Regions from separate parts of the Homo sapiens genome. Here all the other regions are linked to region 3. Evidence: fine-mapped expression QTL. A gene starts in region 3. Each other region holds a variant in brackets. All regions are shown on one strand. Distances are between the middles of the regions. Region 1 has its middle 190 kb from the start of TENM3-AS2. Region 2 has its middle 5.3 kb from the start of MIR1305. Region 3 holds the start of TENM3-AS1 (TENM3 antisense RNA 1).

The links. PIP is the estimated chance that this variant, and not a neighbour inherited with it, causes the effect. A credible set is the group of variants that fine-mapping cannot tell apart.
Region 1: its variant is the best candidate, but not a certain one, in a credible set for the expression of TENM3-AS1 in fibroblasts (GTEx, PIP 0.89).
Region 2: its variant is the best candidate, but not a certain one, in a credible set for the expression of TENM3-AS1 in fibroblasts (GTEx, PIP 0.89).

The regions. Positions count from the first base shown.
Region 1 is chr4:181,635,066-181,640,294 of GRCh38, reverse strand. It overlaps a transcript of TENM3 not described here. Among named protein-coding and RNA genes, the nearest start is that of TENM3-AS2, 190 kb to the left of the region's middle. The variant T/C (reference allele first, on the strand shown) is at 2,691.
Region 2 is chr4:182,161,389-182,166,617 of GRCh38, reverse strand. It overlaps a transcript of TENM3 not described here. Among named protein-coding and RNA genes, the nearest start is that of MIR1305, 5.3 kb to the left of the region's middle. The variant G/C (reference allele first, on the strand shown) is at 2,079.
Region 3 is chr4:182,141,524-182,146,752 of GRCh38, reverse strand. It overlaps TENM3-AS1 (TENM3 antisense RNA 1), which reads left to right and starts at 2,238. Exons shown (of 5, transcript NR_125905.1): 1 at 2,238-2,414; 2 at 2,613-2,706; 3 at 2,909-3,050; 4 at 3,208-3,315. It also overlaps a transcript of TENM3 not described here. RefSeq lists enhancers at 993-1,981, 4,936-5,229.

The sequences.
Region 1 (5,229 bases), 510 kb after region 3:
TCTAACTTGCAATCAGAATCACCTGGAGAGCTTGTTGATGCACAGATTACTGCATTCTATCCCCAGAGTCTCAGGCTCAGTAGGTCTGGAGTAGGGACTGAGAATTGGCATTTCTATCAATTTCCCAGGTGATGCTGCTGTTGGTCCACAGAACTCACTAAAGCCCCTTCATCTTCTTGATGTCCCTGCCTACCTGTTCATTCAACTGTCTTCAGCTTCTCCTTTTGGTGAGTGCTGTCTGTGTACCACCAGGACGTGGCTGATACACTTGGGTACCTTTTGCCAATTATTATGGAGATAAATGTATTCACTGCATCACAAAATAAATGGCAAAGCGACACGGCATTGTAAACGGCACTTGGCACAGTCCTTATCCAGCCCATACGCCCACACACGCAGGGGCTGTGCAGCCCTCAGCCTTACTGGCAGGAGTTCATCTGTTGGGGTGGATCTCCTTGGCCGAGAAGTAGGAACAAAATCAGGAGTGTGTAGTGTCACAGTAGCTAAGGGAAGAGCACCACTCCGAGGGTGGTGGGGATTTATTTATTTATTTTGAGAATAAGTCTTGCTCTTGTCCCCCAGGCTGGAGTACACTGGCGTGATCTCGGCCCACTGCAACCTCTGCCTCCTGGGTTCAAGCGATTCTCCGGCCTCAGCCTCCCAAGTAGCTGGGATCACAGGGGCCTGCCACCATGCCTGGCCAATTTTTGTATTTTTAGTAGAGACGGGGTTTCACTGTGTTGGCCAGGCTGGTCTCAAACTCCTGACCTCAGGTGATCCACCCGCCTCGGCCTCCCAAAGTGCTGGGATTACAGGCGTGAGCCACCACAGCTGGCCAGTGGTGGGGATATTAACCGGACCCTGTCATGGGATGATGGTGACATAGTGCTGCAGGGAGTGGAGCTGCCTTGGCTGCATGTGGATGGTCACAATGAGGTGCTCATTTGTATAACTAACTAGGGTTCAGGGGGCTTGATGCATTCATACAAAAGAAATAATCAGCAAATAAATAAAATATCTCTTAAGTCAATATGCCATGATATGCTTGCTATTTCATTTGGGTTATTATGCCTGGTTACATTTTTGCTGTGCCATTTCATTTCTTAGTCCATCATTTCCCATAGCTTTTTGCTCTTGATATCCAAGCAGAGTCCAGAAGAACTTTCTGCTATGTCAGATTCATGGACTAAACAAGGACAAGTGATGACAGGAATACACTTGAAGTATTCCCAAACAGTCAAAAAAAATGCAAAACAAAATGAATTCTAGGCCACCCTTTTATTTAACAATTTGTCCAGTTAGATCATCTGTGAATCAATTAGGTACAGCATGATTAGAATAAGTTCTGCAGCTTCATGCATGAACAGTCTTTCAATATGACCTTTGGGCTACTACTAAATGTCAGTTATTAATACACGGATGTGTTAATTTAGAAGCTAATTGCCCTTTTTCATATATGAGACCAAAATATGCAGGTGCATCTCTGCTGATTTAAAGGAACTCTGGAATATATATATTTGCAGTTTTTATACATAGTGATTATTAAGGAAAGTAACATTTTAAAAAAACCCACCATCTCAAACTATGATGATCATTACAATTGATGTATTATGTTTTCCAATAAAGTTTCCATTTTTACTACAGAGAAAATGGAGTACAGTAGCAAAAAGAGCAAATCTCTCTGCTCTCATAATGAATTTTTAAGGTTCTAAAGCAGTGAAAAGGTTCAGACAGACTAATGATCTTTGGACTTCAGGATTTCAACCTCTGACTTGGATTTGTTCTGCAGATGGAACATTCTATGTTGGTGAGAGCAGGAACATGGAAAAGTTGACATTAATAATTTTTATACTTCTTAAAAGAAATACTGGGTGATCCCCAAACACAGGGGGGCATTAAGTATTTTTCTATGCAGCCACAACTTCACAACTTTCACGGCCTTATCTGTACATACTTGCTGAAGATTGAATGAATGAGTCCCAGTGCTTACGCTGGAGGAAACCTAATCTGATGCCCACTTATTCGTGATTTAATTACTTATTTGGCCAACATTTTCTGTGTGTCTCTCAATTAGGCACTATGTCAGTCTGTGTGGGATAAGTAGGTTCTATTACCAACAACCAGTTTAAGTAGAATGATAACCATGTCTTGATTTTGAATAAACCAATTTTTAAAAGTTACATAGTAATAAAACTCAATTACTAGGTAAAGGGAATAGGATAAAGTCACCAAGGGCAAGTGTGTCCTGTAGACGGTCTCACATCTTACTTTTCCCCTTCCTCTTTGCCAAGAAAATGCCTGCGTGTGGTCCAAACCCCTTCTACTGATGAACTACAGCTGGGCAGGATATACCCTGTCATTCCTATGCACCCATCCAGCAACTCATCCATCTACCCATTTACTCATTTGTTCACTCAGAAATTATTTATTTCTGTTCTAGGCTCTGAGAATGTACCAATGACTGAAATGAACAAAAATGCATGTCTCACGGGCCATAGATTTTAGTGGGAGTGACGGACAACAACAAAACAATAAATGAGTACAAATGTAACATGTTACAATTGGTAAGTGCTTGCTACAGACAATGTCTGTGTCCCTCTCACATTTGTATGTTGAGATTCTAACCCCTACTGTGATTGTAGGAGGAGGCAGGGCCTTTCGGAGGTAATTAGGTCAGGAGGGTGGAGCCT[T/C]GTCAGTGTTCCACCAAAGTTTTGGCTTTTCCTCCCACAGTGTGAAGATGTTACTGGAAAAACACGGGCTCCTCCAGGGACTATATTTCCAGGTCTCCTTCACGTCTGGATAGGAACATTTGACGAGTTTTGCCACTGTCATGTGCATAGAAGTGACGTGTGTCATTTTCTGGCTTAAGGAGTGGGTATAAATTTCCACCTACTCATTCCCCACCCATGTGCTGAACACACTGGACTCCACAGCCCGGAGTTGCTGGGGGAGCCAAAAGACGTGTTTTGTTTCTTAGTCACCACATGGAGGAAAGTTGCTCGTGAATCAGGAACACTCACATAAATAAGAAATACATTTCTATTTTGATAAGACACTGAAGTTTTTTTTGTTGTTGTTATAGAAACTATAGAATAATTATAACTAATTTTGCAGAGGAAAAAAGGATAGGAGTTGCTGAGGAAGAAGGGGCTTCGCAATCTTGTAGTGTGGTCAGAGAAGGTCTTCATGGGAAGGTGGCCTTCACTTGGAGACCTGAAGGCGGCAGAGAGCAAGGCATATGGGTATCTAGCGGGAAAGCCTTTTTAGAAAGAGGAAACCGAATGTGCAGTGTGTGTAAGTGGAAGTTTCTCGGGAACATCAAGCGAAGCGAAATGGCTGGAGTGGTGTAAACCAGAGGGGTAGGGGCTGAGGTCAGAGAGGTCATGGGGAAGTGTAAAGGATGCAGGGCATGATAGCACTGTAAGTACTTTGGTTTTTAATCGAAGGGTGACGGGAAGCCATCAGGGGCTCTAAACAGAAGAGCAGTGACATGATCCGTTTAGCTAACAGGATTACTTTGGTCGCTGCGTTGAGGATAAACCGAAGAGGGAAAAGCAGAGAAAAGAAGAACTGTTAAGATGCTATTCCAATAATCCAGTAAGACACGATGGGCGCTTGCACTGAGGCGCTGCAGCAGAGGTGGGGAGAAGTGGGTGGAGTGTGGGTACATCAAGAAGGTAGCGCCAAGAGTAACTGCTGATGGATTGGCTGGGCACGTGAGAGGAAGAGAGGAACCTGTCATGACACAGTGATGGTTTGCTTTGTGTGTCAAAGATCAGCTAGAATGTGGTGTCTGTTATTTGGCCAAACACTAGTCTAGAGGTTGTTATGAAGGTATTTTGTGGATGTGACTAACATGTGCAATCATTTGATTTTAAATAAAGCAGATTATTACCCTCTCTAATGTGGGTGGGCTTCTTCCAATCAGCTGAAGGCCTGAAGAGCAAGAAATGGCCATGGGCGGTGGCTCACACCTGTAATCCCAACACTTTGGGAGGCCGAGGCGGGTGGATCACGAGTTCAAGAGATCAAGACCATCCTGGCCAATATGGTGAAACCCTGTCTCTACTAAAAATACAAAATTAGCCGGATGTGGTGGCACGCACCTGTAGTCCCAGCTACTCGGGAGGCTGAGATAGGAGAATCGCCTGAATCTGGGATGTGGAGGTTGTAGTGAGCTGAGATCACATCATTGCACTCCAGCCTGAATGACAGAGCGAAACTGTCTCAAAAAAAACCAAAAAACAAAAACTGAAGTTTCTCTCTCTTTCCTTCCACATGTGTGTACATATATATACATGTATGTTTATGTATATTTATATATGGCATATGTGTATCTATATGTTAGCAGGGAAGAGGGAGCCCACGATGTAATTTCCCCCCAGTTGCCACAAGAATGGCCATGTCTGTTCAATTCCTGACTGTGGCCTCCTCTCTTGATTTGATCTATGTGAGGAAGCCCCGTCTCCCTCCAGAAGCCTATGCTATTACTGTGCTCTGCAACAATTTTTTTAAAGCTCTTGCACCCTTTCTTCCCAGGAAATCCTACAAAGAAAGCTAATATGTAAACATGTAAAAGGAGAAGCATCACCCTAGGTTGAAAGCGGAAGTGGTAGGCCTCTGTCCTATCTGTTCCTCTCCACTCCACCCTCTCAGCCCATAGAAGTTCCCAAGGTAGCTTGGTGGCTCTCTGAGCCCAGCTTGACAACCACTGTCTTATGGAAGAGATCCTCTGACAGGTTTCCTGGGGATCAGCATGGTGGAACCCACACTCCCCACTTAGGTAAGACCCTTGTTCACCTGCAGCCATCTCAGCTGAACTGCAGCGAATCCCTTTTTCCATGTCAAATTAGCATGTATTGGGATATCCTCTTTTCATCAACTTGATCATTCGATGGAAACTGACTACTGATGTCCCTCATGAAGATTGATTAGTCTTTCAATCCCATGTTTAGCTATGATTAGCACATCAGTGTTTATTTTCACTGCAGAGTAAATGCATACCAGGTATTTATACCTATAATGAGGTGAACTAGTATTAAGGTGCAATATTAATTATGTAATAATTACAATAAAAAATTTAGGTCACGAAAATTCATTTTTCAACTTTCTCGTTTGCTATGCCCGCATGCCTCCCTTCTGCTGCTGATGCAGAGAAAATTTTGACGGCTAAATCCCATTAGAATTAATGTGACTTACTCCTGTAAATCTCAAGGGGACAAATAAGAA
Region 2 (5,229 bases), 20 kb before region 3:
AATAAATGTCAAAATCTATCATAAAACTACTCAAAATATTACCTGCATACTATGGGCAATTTTGCTAAATGTGATGTAGTTTGGGGTGAACTGACACAAAGATCCGCTTGGCAGCTGCAAAATGATACCCAAATCTACACCAGTTGATGATGCCATGAAAAATTCAAGATGAAATTTTAAGATTTACCTGTGCAGAATGGCCATGACTGAGGTGCCAAGCTTCAATCTCATGGCAGAAGCCCAGGGGGCCCTCCAGACACACTGTTTTCCTCCCTGCTCTTCCCTCAATCATATCGTCAATGCTGAAGTCCCTAAGAATGGCTTTAGAAAAAGGTGCTATGACATTATCTGCCTTTATAGTTTCCTATGGAAAGCTGCAAATGTGCCTGAACAGAGTTTTAAAGCATGCTCTTTGACGATGTCTCTGAGAAGGTATCTTTACGAAACAGCCACATTAAATTTGGTAGTCTTTACCAACGGGACAACGGAGTAACCTGGGTCAACATACATAAACGCACATTTTAAAAAACTGCTTTTACAGGCCGGGTGCGGTGGCTCACGCCTGTAATCCCAGCACTTTGGGAGGCCGAGGCGGGCAGATCATGAGGTCAGGAGATCGAGACCATCCTGGCTAATGCGGTGAAACCCCGTCTCTACTAAAAAGACAAAAAATTAGACTGGCGTGGTGGCACACGCCTGTAATCCCAGCTACTCGTCGAGAAGCTGAGGCAGGAGAATCGCTTGAACCTGGGAGATGGAGGTTGTAGTGAGCCGAGAGCACGCCACTGCACTCCAGCCTGGATGACAGAGCGAGACTCTCTCAAAAAAACAAAAAACTGCTTTTACACCTGCCCTGCTTCACCCCCCAAAAAAGAGTGAAAGGGGAGTCACTCAGTGTGCATTTTAGGTTTCCACCCAATGTGCTGCATGCTGCAATAACAGAATAACTTAAGGGACCCATGGAAGCTGTATACATATTTTCTAAAAGTCCCAGAGTTCCTGATGGAAAGTTGGTTTTCTAAGTAGTGCAAGGAGATATCTGTTTAGCCTGTTCCTCCCAGCTGATGACTATGTGTGCCTAAGCCTCAGTTAACCGCTGACTCAGATAGCTCTCTAGCAGCTCAGGAACACGACGGAACGTGTAAGAAAAATTTGCTAGGATGTTAAACCATAGAGGCAGCCACAAATCAGAAGTCAGCTTGCTTATCAACCTGAAGTCTTTCCAAAGTGAGAAGTGAACATGGGTCAAATAAAAGGAAATTATAAAGTAACTTTTTGGTCCTCAGCAAATTCCTAAATATAATGCATAATCTCAGCCCTAATGCATCCTTACAACATAGCTGGAATGGAACTCCGAAAATAATGAAATAAGTATTGATCATAGAATCACTTCACTACCTACTAGTAAGTCCTGAGGAGAAATGAGGGATCTGAGTTTCCCTGGAGTAGATGATGCCTGAGAAGGGACTTGAAGGATGACCAGATTTAAACCAGTGGCTTCTCAACCCTGACTGTGCCTTACAAACACTAGGGAGGCTTTTAAAACTTATTTCCTATGTCTAGAGATTCTGAATTAATTAGTTTGGGGCAAAATCCTGGCATTAGTGTTCTCTGCAAGCTCCCTGGTGATTCTAAGATGTAGCTATGGTTAAAAGTACTGAAGACACAAAGAGTAGAGAGGAGTATCTCATTTCCAAAATGGGAAAGAATGAAATATTCAATGATAGAACAGCAGAACTTCTACCTTCAAGGAGGTTAAAATCCTTGAGGGAAAAAAGAACCCAGAGACTCTGGAACTAGCGGTCTGAAGTAGGTTTTTAGAACCCTGGGACTTTTTTTCATTTGCTCATTCAACCAATAAATATTCATCCAGGACTATGTATGAGGTGCTATGTCACGCAACCAGTTAAACAAAAGGGAGCAAAACAAACAAGGTCCCTGGTTTTAGGGGCATGACAATCAAGTGGAAAAGAAAGACACATATCATGTCTTCCATTATGTATTATGTTTTATGCACTGTTTTAAGCAAGGGATGACAGGATCCTCTTTGCGTTCTTAAAAGATCAATTTGAGGTGTG[G/C]AGAATGAGTTGGAGGAGGAGCTCCACAGAATGTCAATTAAGTCAACATGGAAGTCACCGTGCAAATCCAGTCCAGATGCCAAGGGAGCTTGGACTAGAATGGCAGGGGTGGAAGACAAATGGAAGCATGATGATTTTGAGATACTTAGAAAGCAATATTAACTAGACAATGTGATGAGTGGGATTGAGGTGAAGAAAGGACCAAGGACCAGTTCAAGGTTGCTGGCTTGGTAACTTGATGGACAGTTCCTTTCCTGTACTGAATGTGGGCCACCCAGGAAAGATGAGGTTTGCAGGAAAAGATTATGGATTCAGATCCATGTTAGTTTTGGGAGCCTGAGACATGCAAGAGCATACGTGAAATGGTTCAGTATACCAGGATGACCGAAGGTGCCTGCTGGCTCTGGATGCTCCAGTTAATGCTAGTTGTCCTGGCATCCTGTCATTTGGTGATTTGGTGCTCACTGTCACTCTCACAGGGTCCCTGTTTGGATGATAGGTTAGAAGGTCCCCCTGGATACTCATATCTGGAGCTAGAAGTTTTGAGTGGAATATTTGTGAACTGCCTGTTTATGAGTGAACACTGAAGCCATGGGAATCTATGACATTGCAAGAGCTGGGACAGTGGATACAGTGTGAAGGCAGAGGGTCTAAGGGCTTGTTTCTGAGGAACCCTAGTATTTGCAGACCAACTAGAAGAGGACAGATACCAAGAAAGTAGAGAGGCAGTTGCTGAGATGTCACAGAGCAAAGGAAATCAAGCTCTTCTTGGGCAATGATGCTGAGATCAAACTCAAGGACAACTGAAAAGTAGACTCTGGGAGGGCTACACGTTTATCCTCAGTTGTGCCACATTTACAATAAGAGGCTCTGCCTGTATGATCTCTAAATTCCTTCCTACTCCTAGAACCCTTGAATTCTAATAAACTAAAAGTGCAGCATGAGGTAAATGCTAAATAGATGTAGAAACACTATAGCAGCATGGGGGCAGAAAGAGAGAGGGAGATGAGTACCTAATTCTACTGAGCAAATCAAGGACAATTTCACAGAGAATGTTTAACCTGACACAGAAAGTGGGAAGACTCGCCTCGTGCTTGGAAATGCTAACTAAATCCCCTTGTGTGAGGCACACTGTACCTAAGAGATGGGAGGCGGGGCTGGAAGGGGCCTGGCCAGATCAGGAGGTATGGATCTCGGCTTCCATGCTGAGTTTGGGCTTCTTCGTGACAAGATCGGTTCAGGATTTTAGGAGGCAAACTCTCCAGGGGCAATCTAGAAAAATGGATTGGAGAGACGAAAGACGGGTGGCAGGAGGCCCAGTTAGAAGACATTCTGTGCAATTAAGATGAGGGATGAGAGCCCTAGAGAGGAAACTGCCAGTGAGGATGGAAAGGAGGGGCAAGGACCAGAAACTCTGAAATAAGAATGAGCAGGACGTAATGACTGATTAGTACAGGTAGTGAGGGATGGAGCCGTCTTGAAGATGGCTCTTAAGCTTCCAGCATGTGTGAACAAACAGGATAATGGGATAATGTACAAATACAGGAGAAGGGGCAGCTTTGCTCCTCAGGCCTGAGAGAAGAGTGACTGCTATGCTTTGATTATTTGTGTCCCTCCGAAGTTCATATTGAAAGTTAATCTCCAGTGCAACAGTATGAAGAGGGGCCTTTCGACGGGAATTAGGCCGCGAAGGCTCTGCTCTCATGGATGGAATTAGTGTCATAAAAGAGCAGGAGGGACTAGCTAAGCCCTTTTTGCACTTCCATCCTTTGTGCAACATGAGGACACAGAGCTTGTCTCCTCTGGAGGATGCAGTATTTGAGGCAACATCTCAGAAGCAGAGCAAGGTGCTGGAACACTGAGTCTGCCAGCACCTTGATCTTGGACTTCCCAGCCTCCAAACTGAAAAATAAATTTCTATTGTCTATAAACTGTCTAGTCTCAGGTGTCTTGTTACAGCAGCATGAACAGGCTAAGAGAGTGTTCAGAATACCAACTTGGAAATGATGAGGTTGAGATGGCACTGGAACAAACCCCACCCTATACATTCCTCTCTCTTCCTTGAGTTCCGAGTGCACAGTTTGTATTCCACATCTTCAGACTTAATCCTAGCTCACAGTGTTAGTTTGTCTAATTATTACACATTTCTTTGGAGCTTCTAAAATAGATGTCTTCTTCTATTTTTGTACCCCTTTCTTCACAGAGCCTAAGCCAATGTTGGGCTCAAAATAGGTGTTTAATAAATGATAACTGAACACATTAGAGCTGAAAAACAAAAAGGACTTATTTTCACTGGAGCCAACTAACATTTCAAAGACAAATGTTTAAAATTTGCTTTCAGCAAAATATTAAGAAATTCGCCAGGTGTGGTAGCTTGCCTGTAATCCCAGCAACTCAAGAGACTGAGGCAGGAGGACTGCTTGAGCCCATGAGTTTGAGGACAGCCTGCACAACATAGCAAGACATTGATTTTGTTTGTTTGTTTTAAAAAAGAAAGAAATCCATTGAACCGACTAATACATTAGTGGATGTATGTTTGCATCATATATATATATATATATATATATATATATATATATACACACACACACACAAATATATATATGTGTATATATATACACATACATGTGTGTGTATATATACACATATATGTGTGTATATATATACACATATATACACATATATATTTGTGTATATATACACATATATATGTGTATATATATACATATATATGTGTATATATATACATATATTTGTGTATATATATATACACATATATATGTATATATATACACATATATTTGTGTATATATATATACACATATATATGTATATATATACATATATATTTGTGTATATATATACATATATATATTTGTGTGTGTGTATATATATATATACATATATATATTTGTATATATATATACATATATATATATGTATATATATATTTGGACTGAGCCTCAACTCTGTTGCCCAGGCTGGAGTGCAGTGGCGTGATCTCGGCTCATTGCAACCTCCACCTCCCAGGTTCAAGCAATTCTTGTGCCTCAGCATCCCGAGTAGTTGGGATTACAGGTGTGCGCCACCACGCCCAGCTAATTTTTTTTTTTTTTTTTTTTTTGAGACGGAGTCTCGCTCTGTCGCCCAG
Region 3 (5,229 bases):
CAGGGGGTTCACAGAGTTTTCCAAATATATAAACGTTAGCATGGTGATTAGTACAACTACATTTTTTATAAAAACTGTGCAGTGCATGTAAAATGTGTGTTTGATTTGAACTACTTTTTCTAACTATTCTTTTCTAAGTTATTTAACATAAGATATATTTGTTTACTATTAGAAAAAAATCTTTGATTAAGAGGAATAATAAAATTCGTGTAAGAAAAAAAGAACAAGATTGTTAAGGGAAATGCAACAGGAAGAGATACAGACAATCCTGAAATACACAATAGAATAACTAAACTCATTATAAACTCCTATCTTTGAAGAATTTAGGAATAATTTGTGAATGCCATGACATTTTAAAGTGGGATTAGCAAGTCTTATTACTGAACTAACCTCTCACTCTTAGATCAAGAATTAAATATTTACTCTGCATTTAGAATTACAAATCCAAACTTTCAGGGCTCATACAAGAATTTTATATATTAAGATATACATGCTCGAAGTTTTAGATAATTAAAAGTGTATTAAGGAATGCACAAAGCAAGATTGTTGAATTTATAAAATCTTGTTTTAATTGAAATATTAAAATAGATAATTATTATTACACAGTTGCTCTTAATTCTAAAGTCAGTCTGTTCTCAATATATTAATACATAAAGACTACAAATACTTCTCCAAGTAGGCAGTGGGGAAAAAGGGATATGCGTCATTATTTTAAAGAAATTCACTAAGGGATCAAATCACCAAGTTCTGTTCAGTTACAATACCATCTTTTGGGATACTCTTCCAAGCTTTCCAGAGATGCCATATCCACCTTTTTTCTTTTGACAAGAGAAGGGAAAGGTAATGCCTCAACATATGTCTATTTCTAGTGAAAAGACCACCCAGTGGATTCTGCCAGAGTCTACCAATGTTTGACAAAATACATTGTCAGAAGATAAGAAATAGAGCATGATGAAGAGACAGTCCTGTTCTCGGGCATCCCAGCCGTCTGGGGCCCTGTAAAAAGTCTAGGACAGCTCTCAGCCTTTCATTTCCATTGCACCTCCTCACACGTACCTGGAAACTTTTCTCTACCTCCAAATTACAGTGACTTGGGGAAACACACGTGTGTGATGTATTACACGGTACAAGTACTTGTTACCCTCTCTCTACAATAAAAATTAACAAGTTACCACTCCAGCTACCTTAAAGGTGAGGCAGTAAGAATGGAATCCAAGCTGCATAGTAAGATGCTCAGCAAAGATCAATCAGACACAACCCGCCTCAACCTAAAATACGTGAAGCTCTTTGTAATCGGTTGTAAAACACGAGAGGGACTTAGAATCTCAGTTGCAGGCTCATAAATTCGTAATTTTTGAAACGCCCAGCTCAGGATATTTTGTGTGTGTTTCCAACCCCATCCAGAGTTTCCCGATCAAGTTTCAGCCGTGATCCACCACTCCCCACGCTACCCCTCGCCCCGCACTCTCCCTCCTTCACTCCTTTTCAACTTGGCTCCCTGATCGCTGCAGAAGCCTTCTGTCCCCTGCCTGCCCCGGAAAGCGGTGACATCCCGGGGCTTTCCGCTCGCTGGAAGCCCCCCAGGATCCTGTTAAGACGCCCCCGCAGAAGACGCGGGGCCTCGCCACACATCGGGGGCCGAAGAGGACCTGGCGGGCTCCCCTCCCCGCCCCCACTGGGCGCCCAGCCTCCGGACTGCCTTCCTCAGGGACCCCGGGGCTCCCCAGTACGGGGGCGCGGCGCCTGGCTCCCCGGGCGAGAGGCGCCGGCGAAGTTCCCACCTGAGCCGGCGGCCGGAGGTGGCTGGCGCGAGGGCGGGGCGGGGACGGGGAGGCCGGACCGTGGAGAGAATCCGCGCGCTGAGAAGATGTCCCCGCGTCCGCCGCCTCCCGGGGCCACGCGCCGTCCCAGCTCGCGCCCGCCAGCTCCCGGCGCCGCGGCCCGGCACTAGGACCCCATAAAGGAAGGAGGGCGCGCCGGCGGCGGCGCCGCACTTACCGCGCTCGGCTCGCCCGCGCCGCCGGCTCGCTCCCCGGCAGCAGCCGCCGCGTCCGCCCGAGCCGCGCGCACACCGCGCCGGGCCAAATTCAAAGGAGCCGGGCGCGGGGGAGGGGGGCCCCGCCGAGGGAGCGGGGAGCGGGCGCCGGCGGGGCGGGGGCGGGGAGGGGGCGCGAGTGTTACAACTTCCTTCCCTGCCCGCCCCCGGCCGCGCGGCCCGGGGACGCGGGAGGGGAGGGCGCCCGCGCGCCAATGAGTTCACTTTCTTTCTCTCCCCCGCGCTCCCCCTCTCCCCGCCCGCCGGCCCCTCCAGCCTCCTCCAAGGCGGCGGACCAGGCCGGGCCGGAGTTTTCGGGGTTCAGCCCGCGAGCGGGAGGACCGGGGAGGCGAGGGAGGAGGAAGGCGAGAAGGGCCAGGTGAGGAGGCCCGCGGGACGCCCGGCCAGGGAGCGGCATCCAGGACCGTAATTGTGCGGCGGGGGACGCGCCGGGCCGAGTGTGCCCGAGCCCGGGCGCGTACACGTGTCCGTGTGTGTGTGTGTGTGTGTGTGTGCGGGAGTGTGCGAGGGAGAGGAGGAGAGGAGAGGAGCCTACCATGCGCTTCCCCCGGTGCAGATCGCGGGAGAGCCCAATCACGGGGCGAGCTGGACCTGGCTGTGATCATTTATAATCCTTGACTCCTCCGCTCCGCCACTTGTCAAGATGACAGGTACTTTATTTCTTCTTCTTCTTTATTCAAAAAAAGAGATTCCCCGTTTACTGCCTTTTTCTGTCAAATGGGATTTGCCGGACTGAACCACGTTCGCCGCCCCTCCCTCCTTCCCTCCTCCCGGCCGCGTCGGGTTCGGGAAAGCACCGAGGCTCCCATGCTGTGACCAATCAGTGCCTTTACTACTCTCGCCGTGATTTAGGGGTCATCCGTGAATAACACTTCACGCTGATGAATGGCTCTTGCCGGCTTTCGGCTCTGATGAGGGGTCTGCCCGCCGCCGATTGAAAACACTAATGAACTTACTGCGCCATTTGAAATTCACACGCACCAACAAAATGGGGGTACGTGCGTGGGGGTCTGTCCTTTTCTGCTGCGGGTGGCGGGGAGGCGGCCCTGGGGGAGGGGGCGGGTAATTGCTTTGGACTTAAGTGGAAACACTTCTCTGTGTAATCAAACCTCTAACCTTCTTAGAAAACTACTTTTCTTGATCTTCCGTAGGGTGGGCATTTCAGGTCAGCTGAGTCACCCGAGGAGGTGGCAGTGCAAGACACTGCCGGGAAGACGGATTCCGAGGCAGAAGGGTGTAATTAAGGATTTCCACCCCCGGTAGGCGGCCCGTCCTTTGCAGAGCCTCTGAAAATGACCCGCGCCTTCCTTTCCACAGTGTTCTTTCGTCCGAGACCGAAAAGCGCAAATGACCTTTGGACAGGGAAGGGAGGCAGTAAACACTCAGACTTCCTTACCAGCCCCTGGTGGGCACTGCAGCAGAACAATTGTCTGCCCCCCAGGTTCAAGCACCTAGGCCTCCGCCCCGCATCACCTGGCCAGGGGCGGACCCGGGAGTCCTCCGAAGGCTCCACTCCCCACTTTTACTACTCTTCTTTCCTCTCCATTCTCCCCTCAGATTAGCGGCCGGACACTGTCCCTGCCTCGATTTTGTTTGCTGTGGGAGGGAAAAAAAAAGTTTGCTGCTCCTCCCAAGACACTGGCCACTTTCTACTCACTGAAGTTCCCACCGCAGCGCTGGCTCCCGGCTCCCTAGCTCCCGCCCCCTGTCTGCAGGAAAGCCCTCCCCCGGAGCTTCCGAAACTGCTGGAGGTTCCAGAGTTTTGTAGCTCCGAATGGGCGACCTGAGCCGAACCGCTCTCTGGCTGGGTGGTCGGCGGGATCCTTCAGGCTCCTTTCGGGTCCGGGACGGGGCGGCGGCAGAGGTGGGGCGTGCGTGCTTGGGGCTGCCGAGTGAGTGCGGCTCCCTGGTGCGCGCCCGAGCATCTCCCCGCCCTCTCCTGGGACCAGCAGTCTGCCCGTGGAGGGCTAGGAGCCCGCGACCAGGCCTGCCCCGGCCGTCGCCAACCTGTCCTTGGAAGCGTGGCGGAGACTGGTGCGCTCTCAGCCTCGTCGCGCCAGCCGCCTCGCGCCACCCTCCACTTTCAGCTTCAGAGCAGAGGATTCCGCCGACCTCCACCTGTACCTGTACTCGGCCGTTAGGAAATCCACTTGCATTTTTAACTACCGTGCAGAACCAGAAACAGATCGAGCACTGGGAGAACAAGGACGACGCCTCCTAGGAAAGCCTGAACCTTTATGTTAGTTTATCCAAAGTTTGGGCTAGAAGTGAGGAGAATCCCTAAACTCGAGGTGGTGTGCCCAGACCCACAGCCCGTGTTCCCGAAGTTGCTAAGTGCCCGAGCGCAGCGCGTTAAGTAGAGAAGTCTTGGTAGTAAGCGAACCCGACCCGGCTCTCGGGGCGCTAGTGACGGAAAGCAGCACGCATATCTTTGCGGGAAGAATCTAGAGTCGCCCTGGGATAGATCCATCTCCTTCTGCCACTGAATTTCACACTTGAAAAAGATAAGGTCATGGGGGCGGATGAATGATATCCCTCACTCATTTAGCCATTCTTATTATTATATAAAAAAAAGGCTTGTCAATTATGAAGGTGTGTCCCAGATATTACATGAAGATCATGCAAACTACTTGAAATTTGAATCCGGACATGATCGTAAGGAAACTCTTTCATAAAGCACTTTTGTGGCCTAGTTCCCACACACACACAAAAGTATTAGGTCTTTAAAACTTTTCCAAGTAGTAAGTGAGACTCCCTCTTACTGTCTACGAATACACAATAAAGAGATGAGACACTGCCCCAATCCTAAAGAGGCCAGAACTGAAGTGCTACATTGTGTGAGTTAGGGGATGCTTCTTTTTTCCAGCTCTTTTTTCTAGAATCCTCATTACAGCTAACGCTGGTAATAAAGGTAGGAAAACAATAGAACTCATAAAACTTAGAAATGGTAATAAATCTTGGCTCCTGTCTCTAGCCCAGTTCCTTCTTACATGAGATTCAAAGTTTTTCAGTATGCAATGCTGAACGTTCACACTATGGTTGCAAAATAGAAAAAAATACTCTAGAACTCATTAATACGGCCCTGCGCACTCTATGCCAGGCGTCGCTGGTGGACAAAGCGCGCAGGGGTCCTCCTCTACGTCTGCCTGCGCCTGTAATCCAGGCAGCTTACG